Linked DNA regions of Homo sapiens. The protein of the gene in region 2 interacts with the protein of the main gene of each other region in a pairwise test. Each region holds a gene or a part of one and is shown on either strand. Other genes may lie near its edges.

Region 1 (4,950 bases), on a different chromosome or scaffold from region 2:
AACACATGTGGGAGCTGAAAACGAAAACCAAAACACTGTAAGTAAAGAAGAAAACACACAAACACAATAATGGCTGTGCTGGATAGTCTCCATTTGCCTTTCTAAATCTATATCCCACCAAACCCACCCCATGCCCCAAGAGCCTGACAGCTACAGAATTACATCACCTGGACTCTCTTATTTTCTGTCTCTGGATGGAGAAGCCAATGGAAAGAACCAGCAGGAGACTAAGGGAGAATGGTGGGAGAGAAGTTTGGATATTGATTTCCTTGACTCCCACCATGACCCCTCAGTGGCCCTAGCTTGGCAGTGGATACTCTTCTACCAAAGATCAAGTTGGACAGCCCCTCTTCTAAGGCTACACCTCTTGTTTGGTTCCAATAACAGCTCCTTTCTATGGTCCCTTCAGGCCTGGAGGTGGTAAAGGCCCTGGTGTACCATCATCCCTTAGTGATTCCCATAAAATTTCCATTATAAAACTGTCCCTTCATTAAACTCACTTCAATTATTTCTTTCAGCTTGCCATTTCTTTCTTATGGAAATTCAAAGCAAATTTGTATTTTCCTATAAAGAATTCTTATAAAGAAATCAGCCAGGCATGGTGGATCATGTCTGTAATCCCAAGGCTTTGGGTCAGGAGTTCCAGACCAGCCTGGGCAACATAGCGAGACCCTGTCACTATTAAAAAAAAAAAAAAAAGAAAAGAAATCTAAGCATATTTGAATGTTAAAAATCTTAATAGGAATTTCACACTTATAACTTTAATATAATATCCTTGAATAAACGTTTACTAAGTCAAAAAAAAAAAGAATTTTAAGAGTTAGAAACCATAGCAATCCTCCTACGAGGACTGTAAGCACTAGCTCTTTGCTAGGCATATGGCTCCTGCCTGTAATCCCAGTGCTTTAGGATGGGTGGGAGGATCATTTGACCCCTGGAGTTCAAGATCAGCCTGGGAAACACAGTGAGACTCTGTCTTTAAAAAAGTAAAAAAAATTAGACAGGCCTGGTGGTGCACATCTATAGTCCCAGCTACTTGGGAGGCTGAGGTGGAAGTATCACTTGAGCCCAGGAATTCATGGCTGCAATGAGCTATGATCATAACACTGCACTCCAACCTGGGCAATAGAGCAAGACCCCATTTAAAAACAAAACAAAACAAAAAAAACTAGCCCTTCATTTAAAAAACTATCAAAATATCAACATGAGTTAACTCCAGAAGTAATAAGGTCACAAACGAGACTTGCTCACCAATACAGTCTATCCTCAAAATAAGATCACAAAAGCAGATTCATTCTGAGGAAGATAACTTGTGGCACTTGGCACAAATAATGGAACTGGTAACTATTTTTAGTGATTTTATAAACTTTATCCAATAAGGAGGCTTTTCTTTCTCTGAATAACAGTGTCACTAAAGCCACATTAAACTTACTTGGGGACAGTTTCACCAGCATTTGCTAACTCACTTCTCTCTCACTCCTTTACTGTCCTTTAAGAACAAAAGTCCACAACATCTCTGTTATGAATAGTGTCTTGCTTACGGCATTTGTACCATCCATGACTTTTAAAGGCAGCATATTCTAAGTGCCTGTCTGAGTCCCTGTATCAGAAGTAGTAACAATAATCATATATTACACTGATTAAGTAACAGCAGAAACTACAGTGTGATAAAAAATGGAATACAGTCCTTAAATATGAAACTTCCTTACTGGGTTTTATTGCTTTTATTCAACATATATTTTGGGGGCACTTCATTCAGGGGGTTCTGAAATGCAAATGCCTGGACCAAGACCTTGTACACTCAGATTCTGAAGTCCAGTATATAGCCCAGGCATATGTGTTTTTTAAAATGCACAGCTGATCTTTGAGATCAAAAGCTGAAATCTACAACTTAATAAGCTGAAATCCACAAGTTAATACGTGCCAAGTAATGTGCTTGGTGCTGGGGATAATTTCAAGAAACTCACAATCTAAAGCCAGGGAAACATAAACACAAAATCATAGCTGAGAAGGCTAAATATTATGACAGAATTAAGCACAGGGTGCTAAGGTTGCAAAACAGGGGGGCATCTGATACAGCCTAGAGGATCAGGAAAGACCTTGTAGAGTATAAGTAGAAGAAAACCTGGCAAAATAAATAAGCATTTGCCAAGCAACAGGAAGAGCGAGTACAGGAAAGCCATTCCAAGTAGGGGAGCAACATGTGCCATGGCTTGAAAGTAAGACAGCAGGAACTGTACACAGTTCAGTATGCTATCCTAAACGTGCATCCTCAGTGCTAGAGGAGGACGGGGTTAGCAAGCCAAAGCCTGTGGGCTAGCCACCTGTTTTTGTACATACTGTTGCTTTGAAACACAGTCATGCCCATTCACATAGAGAATGCCCATGGCTGCTTTCACAATACAGTAGAGTCAAGCAGGTGAGACAGAAACTACGTGGTCCACAAGCACAAAATGTTAGTTATCCGGCCCTTAAGAAAAAGACTGCCCATCTCTGGTTTAGGATATGAAAGGGAGTATGGCAATACTCATCAATAATAGCAGCTAACCTTTATTGAGTGCTTACTACGCACTATGTACTGCAGAAAGCACTTTCCATGTGCTAACATTTAATTCTCTTAATCCCAAATGTTGTCACTATGAGCCAACTTTGCAGATGGAGAAAGCACTAACTGGTGAATCCAAAAAGGAACATGAGTCTGCCAGACTCCACAGCCCAAACTCTTAACCACTGTGTTATGAAAGATAAATTCAGCTCATGAAAGGTCTTATACAATGGGCGAATTACTTGAACACTGTCCTGAAAATATTAAGATTTGCATGGCCTAGCTGCTGGGTGAAGATTGCAAATAAGAGGCTTACAGAAATACATGGAAAAAAAACAATGGTAAATGAAAATCCTAGCAGCAATGGCTAGGATTAAAGGTAGATGGAGACATGATTTTAACAATGTGAAGCAACAGACTAAGTTTATTGATGTGATTTACTAAATGAGGGAAGATGAGGAAAGAGTTAAGAAAGTGCAAGTTTGGACAACTGTGTCAATGACAGTAGACCATTCATGGAGAAAGATAATATGGGAAGGAGAGTAATGTAAAGGTGGTATGTTCAATTTTGCATTTGTGGAGATTCACAATTATCAGTACCAATATTATACACTAAAAATGGCAAAGAAATATTTAATATTTTTATTCTTACCTCTAAAGTTTTCAACAACGTTTGTGTTACATAGGTCTTTCCACTAGCAGTATGTCCATAAATAAAAATGGATGGAAAGCTGAAATGATGTCTCTAACGAGAGAAAAGACAAATATGAGGCTGCACATACAAAATAGAAAATAAACACTTATCAACTTGTGAGAAAGTTGTACGTGGAAAAGTGAAATATTCAATCCAAATTCCTAACAATGAGCATATTGTGGATGCATCAACACACTTTGAACCTACTTGAATTCAACTCTAAGCACTTTCTTTGTTATGAAATTAAAATGTATGTAACATATTTGGCATATTTTATTATGTACTATATATTTATATTTTTATTATCGTACAGGTTTACATATACAAACTAGTATTTTCAACTTCATAGCAGATTTAAGAGATTTTTCAAGGATAATTTTGTTCATACTCCATTTTTATATTACTCCTTCTTAAAGACTCTTATCTCCTGCGATGCCACAACTTCACTATACATTTTAATGCTATGAAATAAAGTACATATAATCAAAAGATTAAAAGGAATTTCAAGGGTCCTCATTCTTAGGAAAACTTATAGACTACTTCTGAACTATGCATACTCACTGATGCTGGCATAAATGCATACATTAGATCACATAAAACACTAATAAAATCTGCATAGCATTTATTTTAAAATACATATGTGCAAGATCCTCTTGCAGTACATTAGGTTAGCAGCTTAGAGAAAAGTAAATATTGTCAAAGGTCTCTCTGGTCTAGTTAATACTACAAATACTTGTACTTCATTCCTTAAATGAACGCTTTCATTAGATACCTACTAAATGCTGAAAACCATGAGGTACTGAAGAGAACAAATAACAGTAAAAGACATTATCTACTTTGGAGGAAATTATAGTCTACATTTTTAAAATAATTACGGGAAAACTTGATTTTTTAATAATACTCTTTTTTTTTTTTTTTTTTTTTGAGATGGAGTCTCACCCTGTCACCCAGGCTGGAGTGCAATGGCGTGACCTCGGCTCACTTCAACCTCTGCCTCCCGGGTTTAAGCGATTCTCCTGCCTCAGCCTCCTGAGTAGCTGGGATTACAGGTGTGTGCCACCACACCCAGCTAATTTTTGTATTTTTAGTTAAGACGGAGTTTCACCATGTTGGTCAGGCTGGTCTCAAACTCCTGACCTTGTGATCTGCCTGCCTCAGCCTCCCAAAGTGCTGGGATTACAGGTGTGAGCCACTGTGCCTGGCCTATTTTTTAATAATACATTTTTTTAAATAATTACAAGAAAATGGGATTATGCAATTTCTATCAGAAAGTTAAGTCTCTATTAATTATCATCGATTACAGCAACAGTCACAAACATTTATTACATTCAAGTCACTAAGTTAAACATTTCCTTTTACAAGACAAATCAGGAACTCAGATTTACGCAGGAAAAAGACTTTCTAAATGGCATACAGCTATGGCAAAAGCAGCTCAACTGCTAAAAATAGACTAAAAATTTACTTGAAATGAATAGGTAATGTAATACATGAATCTTTTTCTGAAGTTTATATGTAACAATCATAAATTAACTGGCCCAAAAATTCTGTCTCAGCAGGATGCAGTGGCTCAAGCCTGTCATCCCAACACTTTGGGAGGCCAAGGCAGGCAGATCACTTGAGTTCAGGAGTTCGCCTGGGAAATACAGTGAAACCCCATCTCTACAAAAAACACAAAAATAGCCAGGCTTGGAGGCAAACACCTGTGGTCCCA
Region 2 (5,054 bases):
GCAGAACCAACAAGACTCTCAACATCTACCTTTTGGATTCAAATTTGTTTTGGTTATATGCAGAGAGACTGGGTGCTCCGAGCTCCACTCAGGTGAAAGAATTTGCGGCAATTGTTGACGTGAAAGAAGAATCTCATTACATCTTGGATCCAAAGCAAGCACTGATGAAGCTCACCCTAGGTACTGCAGGCAGTTTATTTCCCCAAGCATTGTACATTTTGCTTGACTTCATATGGGTAAATTTTATTGATGGCTCTCATTACATTTAGTTGTGGGGTGATGTCACCTTCGTAGCTCATTTTAAGTCTTTAGACCACCATCAGTCATAATTTTCAAAGAAGCTAATTTTGTCTATTAAATGGAACAGAAACTTCCTCACTCTGAATTTTGGATAAGTTTGTCATTTAGCCCATGGTGGGGGTAAGAGTCCCACTTTCTAAATTGGCGATTTCTGTCACATGTCTAAGGTAGAACCAGCTGCAGGCAGTGGGGACTTGGGGACTAGAACAGGCAGGGAGGTGGAGAGCTATTCTGGTGGGATGTCCTAGGGGCTGATGAAAGTGAGCCTTGACAGCAGCTTTGTTCTAAAGGAGCTTAAAGAGAAAGCAGTGGCCGGGCGCAGTGGCTCACGCCTGTAATCCCAGCACTTTGGGAGGCCGAGGCGGGTGGATCACGAGGTCAGGAGATCGAGACTATCCTGGCTAATGTGGTGAAACCCCGTCTCTACTAAAAATACAAAAAAAAAAAAAATTAGCCGGGCGCGTTGGCGGGCGCCTGTAGTCCCAGCTACTCGGGAGGCTGAGGCAGGAGAATGTCGTGAACCTGGGAGGCAGAGCTTGCAGTGAGCAGAGATCGCGCCCCTGCACTCCAGCCTGGGCGACAGAGCAAGACTCCGTCTCCAAAAAAAGAGAGCAGTGAAGAAGGAAGTAGAGCCGCCTTGCCTCCCTTTTTGTCTCATAGGCTTAAATGTCTAAGGATCAAGGCCACCAGACCTAATTTGTTCTGCTGCTGTTTCATAATGTACTGAGTAATATTGCTGGGACCTGGGGTACCTACACTGTAACAAGTGTAAAGTGCAAATAAATAAGTGTCAGTCGCAAACCAGCAAAACCCACTTTTTGAGGAGTAAGGCTCCATGATGAGAAAGCACCCAGAGCTTGCCCCTGGGACTTGGCAGCAACATTGGGCTGACCCACCCTGGCCTGTTCCCAGGAATTTGCTGATGCCCTTGACTACACACAATGAAGTGAGAATTCAAAAGCCACGTTAGTTCAGCCTCATTGGAAACGGGAGGGAGGGTCAGTGTATGCCGAATGGAGAAAGGAGGAATTTGGTAGGGAAGGAAACCTTTCATTTCAAGTTTTAAAGTATGAACTCAACAGTAGACTCAGAGCTTCTACATATGAGTCTTTTTAGCCATCCTCTTTCAAATCTAGGTGAAGCTTGTTTCTTACATTAGACACATTTGTGAAAAGGCTTTATGTAAATATTGATTTTTCTATATCAAGTTACATATTATAAATCCAAGAGTTCCTCACTGTGTAAAAGAACCCTGTGACCAGTCACTTTTTGAAGGGCATAAATCTGTCGATATTATAGATTACTCCCAATTCATGTTATCTAAAGTCATTTTGATGTGTTGAGCTTTCTTAAAATGAAACAAGCATTTTTTTTTTAAATGGGAAAGAGACTCCAGAGAAATGGGGTCAGTGTTCCTACAAGCATGTATTTTTGAGGTAGTCTGTATTAGATTTTCCTGAATTCCATTCAGTAATGCTCAAGTGTTTAATGACCTCATAATGTGTTCACTTTGAATTTAAGGGTAATTGAAAGAAGCCTTCTTTAGATTTCTTTCCATCTTCTGTATCTTCTCTGAAATGTTTAGCCTAGCTGTTCTTTGTCCTGCAGTTAGTGACAGAATTCTTAGGGAGCTTGTAAAAAACACCTACTGTGTGTCATTGTTGGTTTAGAGACTTAACTCATAAATCAGCTGTCTCTAGGCTAGTTTCAGAATTTAGGCTTTATTCAGATTAGGAAATAATTCTTGGTTTCATGTTTCAAAAACATAGCCAACTAAGTGTTTCTCAGATGCTGATCATGAATTCTCTTTAGTATTCACATGACATTCTTCACTTCCTCTTCCATTCTGCACGCTGCATTGCCCATTGCACCTCAAAATGGAGGGAGTTAGAAGAAAGAAAAAGAACTGAAACTTTAGCTGAGTGCAATGGTGGACGCCTGTAGTCCCAGCTACTCTGGAGGCTGAGGTAGGAGGATCGCTTGAGCCCAGGAGTTTAAGGCTACAGTGAGCTATGATTGCAGCACTGTACTCCAGCCTGGGCAACAGAGTGAGACCCTGTCTCTTTAAAAAAAAAAAAAAAAGTGAAATTCAAATTAGTATTGTTTCAGATGAAGCAAAGGACTCTGAAGATGGCAGAATTTGTGGTAAAACTGTTGGTTCAAATCAGGTTTTTGATTATTATGGGTTTTATGTATTTTTCCACTACATATAATTTTTTCTTAACCTTTAAAAAAAGAAACTTAAAGAACCTTAATAAAGGAAACAAAAAACTGTAGCTCCTTGTCCTCAAATTAATGAGCATTTAAACACATTCCACACTACTGTAGCTTGTGCAGTTGTCACATTTGTGGTTAAGCTTAAAGGTCTTAGTATTATAGGGTGAAATTTCTTGAAAAGATGGTGGCTTGTTGATGATTTATACAGTCTCACTTGGTGTCTATTTGTGGACCAGTCCTTTTAAAAAAAGAATAGTCTATGAATATTAGAGCATCTAACATTGCATAGTGTTTTGTTATCCACATTACTGTCTGCTGAGTTAATACTACCAGAGCTAAACCTGATGCCACCCGGGCAGCTTTGTTTGGGGTTTTGCTGATAGGTGAAATGTTAAAAATGTGAGCCTATGAAGTCATTTGAGTTTTTAAAATGTGGAGTTTAAAAGTAGGCCAGCTATTCTCTTTGTATCTAGAGGAGAGTTGATCTCATTTTCTCTTTATTTTTAGAGTCTTTTATTCAAAACTTCAGCGTTCTCTATAGTCCCTTGAAAAGGCATCTCATTGGAAGTGGCTCTGCCCAGTTCCCGTCTCAGCATTTAATCACTGAAGTGACAACTGATACCTTTTGGGAAGTAGTCCTTCAAAAACAGGTATGGAGTCATGAGAGGCAAAAGTTAAGCCATCTGTCCCTCTTAAAATAATTTCCAAACTACAGTTGTTGGGGTGAGCAGCTGTTTTTGATGTATAGAAGAGTAACCACGTGATGGCCCAATTATGGACCGTGAATGAATTACATGTGGTTTTTAAATTTCAGAAAAGTGCTCCAGAAAGCACAGTATTGGAAAGACCTAAAGATGAAAATTTTCACTGTAATATTTGCATAGGTAGCATTTTTCGGGTGCTTGCTGGATTCTAAGCAATGAGGAAAGAAATGAAGAAGAGCCCATTTCCCGGTGCAAGTAACATCTGTCTTCCCTTTCCCACAGGACGTTCTCCTGCTCTATTACGCTCCGTGGTGCGGCTTCTGTCCATCCCTCAATCACATCTTCATCCAGCTAGCTCGGAACCTGCCCATGGACACATTCACTGTGGCAAGGTAAGCAGGCCTCTTCTGCAGCGCTTTGGGCTGTATGCCCATTTTCACTCTTATTTGCAGCTTAGCCATATGGTGTGTGAGGGTCTGCCCATTTTCCATTAACCTTTGGTAGGACTTGGCTGAATTTAATTGTCAGGTTGAAGCCATGAGCAAAGCCTCTTTGAAACTGAACTTTTCCTCATGAATTCTGAGTGTTCCTTCCATGATGTTGATGTTTAGCCCTGACTAGATTCGTAGGTGGCTGAGTGCAGTTCTGTGGGGAGAGCACTGACCTGGTTGCCAGGATGGCCCCGTGGAATACCATGGGACAGTTGCCCCAGGCAATGCCAGTGGGTCCTGGGATCCCAAGCAGATCTCTCCACCAGCCCTGGTTTATCTCATTTGTGAAATTAAAAGGAAAGACCAATAGATATCCACATTCTGGTATTGTGATTCCATGGGTACTGTATGTGCGCTTTTGAGTAAACAAAATTTTTAAAAATATTTTTTGGGAAAAGAAGGCTCAAATACAGAGTCTTTAGATGGGGTAGTAAGCAGTTTTGGGTGAGGAAAACTGTTCACATTTAACCCCCCACCTCCCCCAAAACCCTACAGATAGATAAGAGTTAAATATAAAAAAATCAAAACAAAAAATAGGATTTGCTGATTCCTCTGGGAGATGGAAACTTTCCAAAGTGGAAGCAGTTGGAAAAATAAAGAGAGAAAAATGGACAGATTCCACTAGAAATACGTGCAGTGAAAACAGGGAAAGCAGACAAAAAGGGGGACCATTAATATATTTTCCAGTGTCTCTGTGTCACCTGTTATATGCACTGTAAGTAATAATTAGAATCAAATCTGAGGAGTTACTATGTTGGGAGAGTTTTTGATATACATATTACCTGACTGAGTCCTTGCGACGCTTAGTGAAGGCACTCTAGTTAAAAAAAGAAAGTGCTATTTGTGTTGAGGAGGAAACTGAGACATAGAAAGATTCGACAAGTTGCCCAGAGTTTCAAGCTGCAAATGAGGGGCCAGGATTAAATCAGGCATTCATACTCCAGCCTCCCCGGAAATTAAAATGGTTTAGAAGATGGCTGAGACCGATTCCATTCTGAACAAAGGATGTGAGCAGGTTTTTCTTTTAAGAGGAGAGAGTAAATAAACAAGTGGGGAAATTATAACCTAATAAATGTAAATTAAAACAGTAACAAAGTATCATTTAACATATTAAAGTAATCAGTGGTTTTAAGTGACAGAATCTTGTGTTGATAAAATAAAATGGAAACTGCAGTCAGATGTATCTAATGGAATGAGTACATTGCCATAACTCTTTTGGAAAGCATTTTGGCAACATTTACAAGAAATCAACAAAAACAGTTAACACATTTTTGACCCAGTTAATTTTACTTTGGAGAAGTAATGGAATAGGAATTCCGAAGAAGCATGAGCTCATCATTAT

What was found. Proteins that work in one complex are often made in the same cells at the same time.
Region 1: the proteins of TXNDC11 (region 2) and ORC5 interact in a two-hybrid assay, tested with the Homo sapiens proteins (one large-scale study listed by BioGRID and IntAct).

Annotation. Positions count from the first base shown.
Region 1 is NC_000007.14:104,200,945-104,205,894, forward strand, and holds part of ORC5 (origin recognition complex subunit 5), read right to left. Parts: intron 3,291-4,950; coding exon 3,198-3,290; intron 15-3,197; coding exon 1-14. UniProt on the Homo sapiens protein: Component of the origin recognition complex (ORC) that binds origins of replication. DNA-binding is ATP-dependent. The specific DNA sequences that define origins of replication have not been identified yet.
Region 2 is NC_000016.10:11,686,416-11,691,469, reverse strand, and holds part of TXNDC11 (thioredoxin domain-containing protein 11), read left to right. Parts: coding exon 1-180; intron 181-3,024; coding exon 3,025-3,167; intron 3,168-3,503; coding exon 3,504-3,613; intron 3,614-5,054. UniProt on the Homo sapiens protein: May act as a redox regulator involved in DUOX proteins folding. The interaction with DUOX1 and DUOX2 suggest that it belongs to a multiprotein complex constituting the thyroid H(2)O(2) generating system.